2 linked regions of the Homo sapiens genome follow. The protein of the gene in region 1 purifies or fractionates together with the protein of each later gene. This does not show direct contact. Each region holds a gene or a part of one and is shown in the gene's direction. Other genes may lie near its edges.

Region 1 (3,946 bases):
GACGTGGGCAGATCACTAGAGGTCAGGCGTTCAAGACCAGCCTGGCCAACATGGTGAAACCCCATCCCTGCTAAAACAGAAACAAAATTAGCCGGGCATGGTGGCACACATCTGTAATCCCAGCTACTTGGGAGGCTGAGACAGGAGAATCGTTTGAACCCAGGAGGTGGAGGTTGCAGTGAGCCGAGATCTTGCCACTGCACTCCAGCCTGGGCGACAGAGCAAGACAGAAAAAAAAAAAGAGCGAGAGAGAGGGAGAGAAAGAGATTCCTAGCCTATGCCTACTGAATCATAATTTCCAAGGGTGGAGGCAAGAAATGAAATTTCTTTCTTTTTAGTTTCATAAATGATGATGTTGCAGTGATGAGCAGGTCTACGGTCTGGTATTTCAGACCATTTCATCTAGACAAGTCTAACATTAAGTGTAGAAAAGCCTGGGTTAAAGGCTGTTGAATTCTAAATGGGGTTAGGGGAATGGTGGGTTTAGAGGACTCAAGTAAACAAATAAAAGAGGACACGAGCCGTTCTTGGTGGTGCAGTCCCCCTCCCTGAAAACACATAGCCCAGCCTGACCTGAGCCAAGTCTTCTGGACAATTCTCCACTGACTGCAAAGCATTCCACTCTTCTTCCATCACCTCTTGAACTAGAAAGCTGTTCTGAGAATTCCCTGGCCCACTGCTTCCAGCCTGGCGGTACCTGTTTAGGAGCCTGTCCCGGCTGTTTCTCATTCTCTCCAGGCATCTCTGGGAAAAAAGAGCAAGATTGGGGGGGAAAAAAAAAGCATTTCTATTTTTAAAAAACACTCTTACATTAGTTGAGAAAACATTAAAGAAAGTTTATAGACACAAAATTTCAATGATAATACTAACTAGTGTTACTTTTGCATATTCCTCTGTAGAGATACATAAAATTACAATGCTTTGTACACGTATTTACAAAGAACCATATTTTTTATTCTAGCTTGCCAGTTTCCTTAATGGTTGTGTGCATAATATCTCAGCATCCAATGTCCTATTACAGAACATTTATATTCCTTCCAAATTCTTGCTACTCTAGATATGGCTGGGTAACGGCCTTCCTGCACAGCAGCGTTTCTGAACTCAGGGAGGTTTTGTCCCCCAAGGAACATTTGGCAATGCTTGGAGACATTTCTGGTTGTCACAATTCTAGTTATAGGACTATTAGCATCTAGTGGGTGGAGGCCCGAGACGTGGCTTAAACAACCCTCCACAACATATAAATATCTCCCTCAAAATGTCCATTGTCAAGGCTGAGAAACTCTGCTGTATCTGCTATCTTTCTTGCGTCGGGTTACTTTCTTGGACATTACTTACTAATAACCACACTGTGTTCAGAAGAGGCCAGAACTGAGGTGGAGCCCTCTTCTAAGCCTCATTTTACTACTCTCTAGAATAGAAATCATCTCTATCTCACAAGACGAACGTAGACAAAGTGCCTCTCTCGGTGGCCACCTCCGCAGCAACAGTAGGTAGTGTTATTGCAGAGGTGCAAACGGTGATGTCCTGACCACAATTTAAATTCAAAACAAAATCGAATCCAAAAACAAGGCTTTCTAGGACTTGACCGACCCGGGCTAATCCCACACTCTACAGTCAGCAGGCCTGGGTTTGACCAGACCAGGCGCGCTGCGGCACCTGCTCCACGGAGCAGGGCTAAGGCGAAGGCAGGGAAGACGGCGGTCACCGGGACGATCTAGGGTAGACCACTGCACAAACCCCATACCCACCTGCCGGAAAGCCTCTTTCCAAGGCGGCGAGCCCACCAGTTTGTACAGGGAGCGGCGCGGAGACCTCAACGACTCCGCCATCTCCTCTTCGCGGGAGACAAAGCCACAAGACCCGTTCCCTGGAGGCGCGCACAGACCCCTGGGAGGTGTACTTTCCGGGTGCAGACCGCGAATGGATCGCAGCGTATTCTGGGAAGTGTTGTTTTATCGACCGGCCCCACGTGGAGACAGATTTAGGCATCCAAGCGAAATGCGTGAGGCCAGCCCGACCTGCACTGAGGGAGGTAAGTCTTGAGGGAAAGTTCTGGATGCCTGGGTTTACCCAGATGGAGGTGTCCAATAGGCAATTAGATACACAAGTCTCAGGCTCTCCCCAGGTGCTAGATTTCCAGCAGCACCACCATTATGTTGACTTCTCGTCCCGCCCCCTTGGGCTTCAGAAATAATGGTGATTGGCTTTCCCTTGGTGACGCCCCTGCTTGGTGGGCTGGCCTCGCCTTCGCCCCCCGACCTGGCACGAGCCTCTCGAGCTTCCGGGCCGTCTGCTCGGTGATTGGCCGAAACAGTGAGTGGACGGCCGCGGATTGGCTGTGCTCAGCGGCGGGCTGAGCAACTGGAGTGAGGGGAGCAGTTGGGCCAAGATGGCGGCCGCCGAGGGACCGGTGGGCGACGGCGAGCTGTGGCAGACCTGGCTTCCTAACCACGTCGTGTTCTTGCGGCTCCGGGAGGGACTGAAAAACCAGAGTCCAACCGAAGCTGAGAAACCAGCTTCTTCGTCGTTGCCTTCGTCGCCGCCGCCGCAGTTGCTGACGAGAAACGTGGTCTTTGGCCTCGGCGGAGAGCTTTTCCTGTGGGACGGAGAAGACAGCTCCTTCTTAGTCGTTCGCCTTCGGGGCCCCAGCGGCGGCGGCGAAGAGCCCGCCCTGTCCCAGTACCAGGTAATGCCAGGCCGATCTTGGAAGTGACCCTCACCGGGATCGGAACCAGTCTTTTTTGTTCCTTGCTCCTCTTGGCTGTTTTTCATCTTGTGGCAGGCGTTCCAGCGGATTGACTCCGACGCTGCCATACGCGGTCGCGGGGACTCAGGCTCTCTCGATGCTTACGGCCTGGAGGCCTGGGAGGAAGGAAAGGGTCATTGAATATTCAATAAAAATACTAGTGACGGATGAGTGCTCTGGAGAAAAACAAAGCGGGCTAAAGGGGTTGAGAACGAGTGGGCGGAGTTGCTATTTTTAGTTTCGTCGAGAGAAACCTGTTTCCTGATGTGACGCTTATAATAGGTTAGATCGTAACTTTCTCTTGCGTTGTGCACAGCAAGTCAGGTTGCAGGTTTCAAAGCACCACGCTTCATGCTTGACATGGAGGAGGAAGTCTCTGTTAATTCTTACCCCCGTAACGCCCGCTTTAGAAAATAAAGCCATACCCAAAATGGGGATTTTTGTTTTTGATTAGCCGACAGCATGTGAAAATGGGTGTGATCCAGAAAGTATTACACACTTGCCGTGGTCAAATATTGGTTTATGGAAATGTTTATTTGTAATACACAGATTCTCTTAAAGATGAAAAAGAGCTTGGTACTCATTCTAAGGTATGACATCTGTTGTGTGCCCGGTCCAATTCTTGTTACCGAGAAGTGATTTAATTTTAATAAGACGCTAGCAATGCTTCTGCAGTTTTGAAAATAGGGCAGGAGTCTACAGTCTACTTATTTACCCAATTTCAGTTAAAAAGAATTATGAAGGCCGGGCGCGGTGGCTCACGCCTGCAGTCCCAACACTGGGAGGCAGAGGCAGGTGGATCACCTGAAGTCAGGAATTCGAGACCAGCCTGGCCAACATGGTGAAACCCCGTCTCTACTAAAAATACAAAAATTAGCCAGGTGTAGTGGCGCGCCCTTGTAATCCCAGCTACTCAGGTGCCTGAGGCAGGAGAATCGCTTGAACCTGGGAGGAGGAGGTTGCAGTGAGCTGAGATCACGCCCCTGCACTACAGCCTGGGCAACAGAGCAAGACTGTGTCTCAAAAAATAATAATAATTACCAAATGTGCAGCACGCAGTATTCTAATAACATTCTATACTGCTGTGTAGCATTTGACATAATCATAACTTAATTATTTATAATTATTTTGTGTCTTTTTTTTTTTTTTGAGATGGAGTTTCGCTCTTGTTGCCCAGGCTGGAGTGCAATGGCGCCATCT
Region 2 (3,600 bases), on another chromosome or scaffold:
TAGGACATTACTTCCTTATATGTATGAAAAGGATGCGTGTTCTTACTTGGATGTAAAATTCTGGTATAATCTCGGTTAAACCAAACGTGCTACTTATGTTACCTAAATCCTGTTATACTTATTAATCTGATGATCTCTGAGAAGTTGTAATGTCTCTTACTTTTTAGTATGGTTTTGATCAAAATGCAAATCTGACCTACTTCCCCTGCCCAGCTTCCAACCCTGCTGTGGCTCCCCAGTGCCCTCAGGAGGACACCCATGGCTCAGCCAAGAATGCTGTGCTTTAAGAACAAAAAAGCTCTACTGGGGTGCCTGCTGGCTGCTCAGCCCTTCTCATGACACTCTCTAAGCCCCACTACTTCTATTACAGTTACACTAAACTGAAAAGGGAAAGGTTTTGCTTATAAATATTCTTCCTGCCAATAATATTCCCACTCACCCCTTGCCTAACACTTCATTGCCCCTTGGGTCTCAGCTCACAGGTCCCTTTCTCCAGGAAGCCTTCCCTGGGCCTGGCTGGGTCAGAGGGCTCCCCTCTCTTAGCACTGATCCCACTGCCTGGGCTTCCCTGCTTCCAGCGCTGGTCCCCACTGGCTCTCCTTCTCTAGTGATGTCTCCATTCCCTCCTCCTCTGGACCAGGAGCTCCCTGAGAACCCTGGGTCTGTTGGTGTGTCCCCAGCATTGCCTGCCACAGGGCTGAGCCAGAGGAGCTTCTCAGTGGTAAATTTTCATGGAATGAACCAGGGGAGAGGCCCCCACATCTCCAGGAGGGCTCCCCAGACTCTTCTCCAGGATTTCTTGATGCTGAGAGTGCACACACACACACGCATGCACACACACACCTTGTCCCAAGTGCCCCTGTCCCCCATGACACACACCCCCATCTCTCTCTCCCACAGCTGTGGCCCCCCAGAGGGCCCCTATCCTGCGTCCAGCCTTCGTCCCCCACGTGCTACAGAGAGCAGGTGAGGGGCCAGGGTCATCATCCCTGCCACATAACTCCCCCCAGGCCCTGGAACTCCCCACTAACACCCTGACAGATTCCGCTCTCTCCTCTGCAGCAGCCGGCCCCCGCCCTATGGCCCTACGGCCCCCTCACCAGGCCCTCGTGGGCCCCCCTCTGCCTGGGCCCCCTGGACCACCCATGATGCTGCCACCAATGGCTCGGGCTCCAGGGCCCCCGCTGGGCTCCATGGCTGCACTGAGGCCCCCTCTGGTGAGTGTGAACAGGGAACTAACGGTCAGATGTGCGGTGGACGGGGAGACCATCCATCCTGGCCCAATGGGCTATGTCTGAGTTGGCCTCTCTCCTGACTTTCTGTTTCTCTACCTTCTCACTCTGCCTTTGTCTCTGTCTCTTTCTGCATCTTTCTGTGGCAAAATCTGTTCTCTCCTTTTGTGAAGGGAGTACAGAGAGAAACATGCTATTGGAATATTTCTCTTTTGATTGTTACTGATGTTCTTGTCTGTGGCTGTCTCTCTCTGCCTGTGTTTCTCCTTCTCTGTGTTTGTCTGGCTGGAGACTCTCTGCTTGGGTGTCTCTTGGCTGCTCTCTGGCCCCCAGGCCCTTTCTTTGTTGGATGGAATGGAGATGACAGTAAAGTCTGAGCCTGTGAGCCGGCCCCCCTCATGCTCTCCTCTTACCCACAGGAAGAGCCAGCAGCACCCCGAGAGCTGGGCCTAGGCCTGGGGTTGGGCCTGAAAGAGAAGGAAGAGGCAGTGGTGGCGGCGGCGGCTGGGCTGGAGGAGGCTAGCGCGGCTGTGGCCGTGGGGGCAGGAGGTGCCCCAGCTGGCCCTGCAGTCATTGGGCCCAGCCTGCCGCTGGCCCTGGCCATGCCATTGCCCGAGCCTGAGCCCCTGCCCCTCCCGTTGGAGGTCGTCCGCGGCCTCCTGCCCCCGCTGCGCATTCCTGAACTCCTGTCCCTGCGTCCTCGGCCCCGGCCCCCTCGGCCAGAGCCACCCCCAGGCCTCATGGCTCTTGAGGTAAGCAGGGAGCCTAGCGGTGAAGGGACAGAAGGGACGGGGGGCAGACAGGAGCCCAGGAACTTCCACACAGACAGACCGGACAGCAGGAGGACCTGGGGGAGGGAGGCGGACACATGTGCCCCACATCCAGAAGCACATCCAGCCCTTACTGTGGTGGCAGGAGGGCCGGGGACCAAAGGACAGTGGGAGACCCCAATACCAACCCCTTTGCACCTCTCCCCTTTCCTCTGCAGGTCCCAGAGCCCCTGGGTGAAGACAAGAAGAAGGGGAAGCCAGAGAAATTGAAACGGTGCATTCGCACAGCGGCAGGGAGCAGCTGGGAGGACCCCAGCCTGCTGGAGTGGGATGCAGGTAAGCTGCTGAAGCTCGAGGTCAGGCGTGGCTCGGCCAAGGTCAGACCAGGCTGCTGTCCTTGGGCTGCAGACTGGGAGGGTGAACCCTCTCAGTAGGGTGGGCGCTGTTGTTAGCCCACCTTGGGGAGGGGAGGCTATGGCTCAGGGGCTGGTTCTTCACCTAGCCATGGGCCGGAGCTTGGTGGAGGTGACGGGGACATGGGGCTTTGTAGCCTGTTTTACTCATGAGGTGCCTGGCTTCAGAGAGCATTCTTTTTTTTTCCCAACTCTTAGGATAAAAATTTTTTTTTTTTTTTTTTATGAGACAGAGTACCACTCTGTCGCCCAGGCTGCAGTGCAGTGGCGCAATCTTGGCTCACTGCAGCCTCCGCCCCCCAGGTTCAAGTGATTCTCCTGCCTCAGCCTCCCAAAGTGCTGGGATTACAGGCATGAGCCACTGTACCTGGCCGGGAAAAATTTTAAACACAGATGGCACAGTAAACACCCGTCTACCCACCACCTAGATTCTGCAATTAACATTTTGCTGTGTTCACTTTTTTCCTCTTTGTGTATGTATCTGGTTTCTTTGTTTTTAGCTCAGTCATTTGAAGCAAGTTATAAGTGAATTAATCACTTCTAAATATCTCAGTATTTATCTCCTAAGAAAAGAGATATTTTGGCCAGGCACGGTGGCTCACACCTGTAATCCCAGCACTTTGGGAGGCGGAGGCAGGTGGATCACTTGAGGTCAGGAGTTCAAGACCAGCCTGGCCAACATGGTGAAATCCCGTGTCTCTAAAAATACAAAAAAATTAGCCAGGCTTGGTGGGAGGCACCTATAATCCCAGCTACTCGGTTGGCTGAGACAGGAGTATCGCCTGAACCCAGGAGGCAGAGGTTGCAGTGAGCCGAGATCAGGCCACTGCACTCTAGCCTGGCAACAGAACAAGACTCCATCTCAAAAAAAAAAAAAAAAAGAAAAGAGATACTTTTTGCATATCATAATACTATTATCAAGTCTAAGAACATTAACTAATTCGGTATCTTCTTTTCAGTTTATATTCGTATTTCCCTAGGTGTCCCAAAACTCTGTTAGAACTATTAATGTTTTTGCCCTGAACCAGCATGCATGCAGTTTTATGTCCTTCAATTATATCTTTTTTTTTTTCTTTTTTTTTTTTGAAACGGAGTCTTGCTCCATCGCCCAGGCTGGAGTGCAGTGGCGCAATCTCGGCAGCTCACTGCAACCTCCACCTGCCAGGGTCAAGTAATTCTCCTGCC

Evidence for each region. The genes of interacting proteins can lie anywhere in the genome.
Region 2: the proteins of NUP88 (region 1) and RBM42 fractionate together in Homo sapiens (co-fractionation; 2 studies listed by BioGRID). This does not show direct contact.

Annotation. Positions count from the first base shown.
Region 1 is NC_000017.11:5,418,094-5,422,039, reverse strand, and holds the start of NUP88 (nuclear pore complex protein Nup88), read left to right. Parts: upstream 1-2,377; 5' UTR 2,378-2,389; coding exon 2,390-2,686; intron 2,687-3,946. Other genes in the region: RPAIN (RPA-interacting protein), read right to left, coding at 574-744, 1,749-1,829. UniProt on the Homo sapiens protein: Component of nuclear pore complex.
Region 2 is NC_000019.10:35,632,036-35,635,635, forward strand, and holds part of RBM42 (RNA-binding protein 42), read left to right. Parts: intron 1-900; coding exon 901-966; intron 967-1,041; coding exon 1,042-1,217; intron 1,218-1,651; coding exon 1,652-1,984; intron 1,985-2,220; coding exon 2,221-2,338; intron 2,339-3,600. UniProt on the Homo sapiens protein: Binds (via the RRM domain) to the 3'-untranslated region (UTR) of CDKN1A mRNA.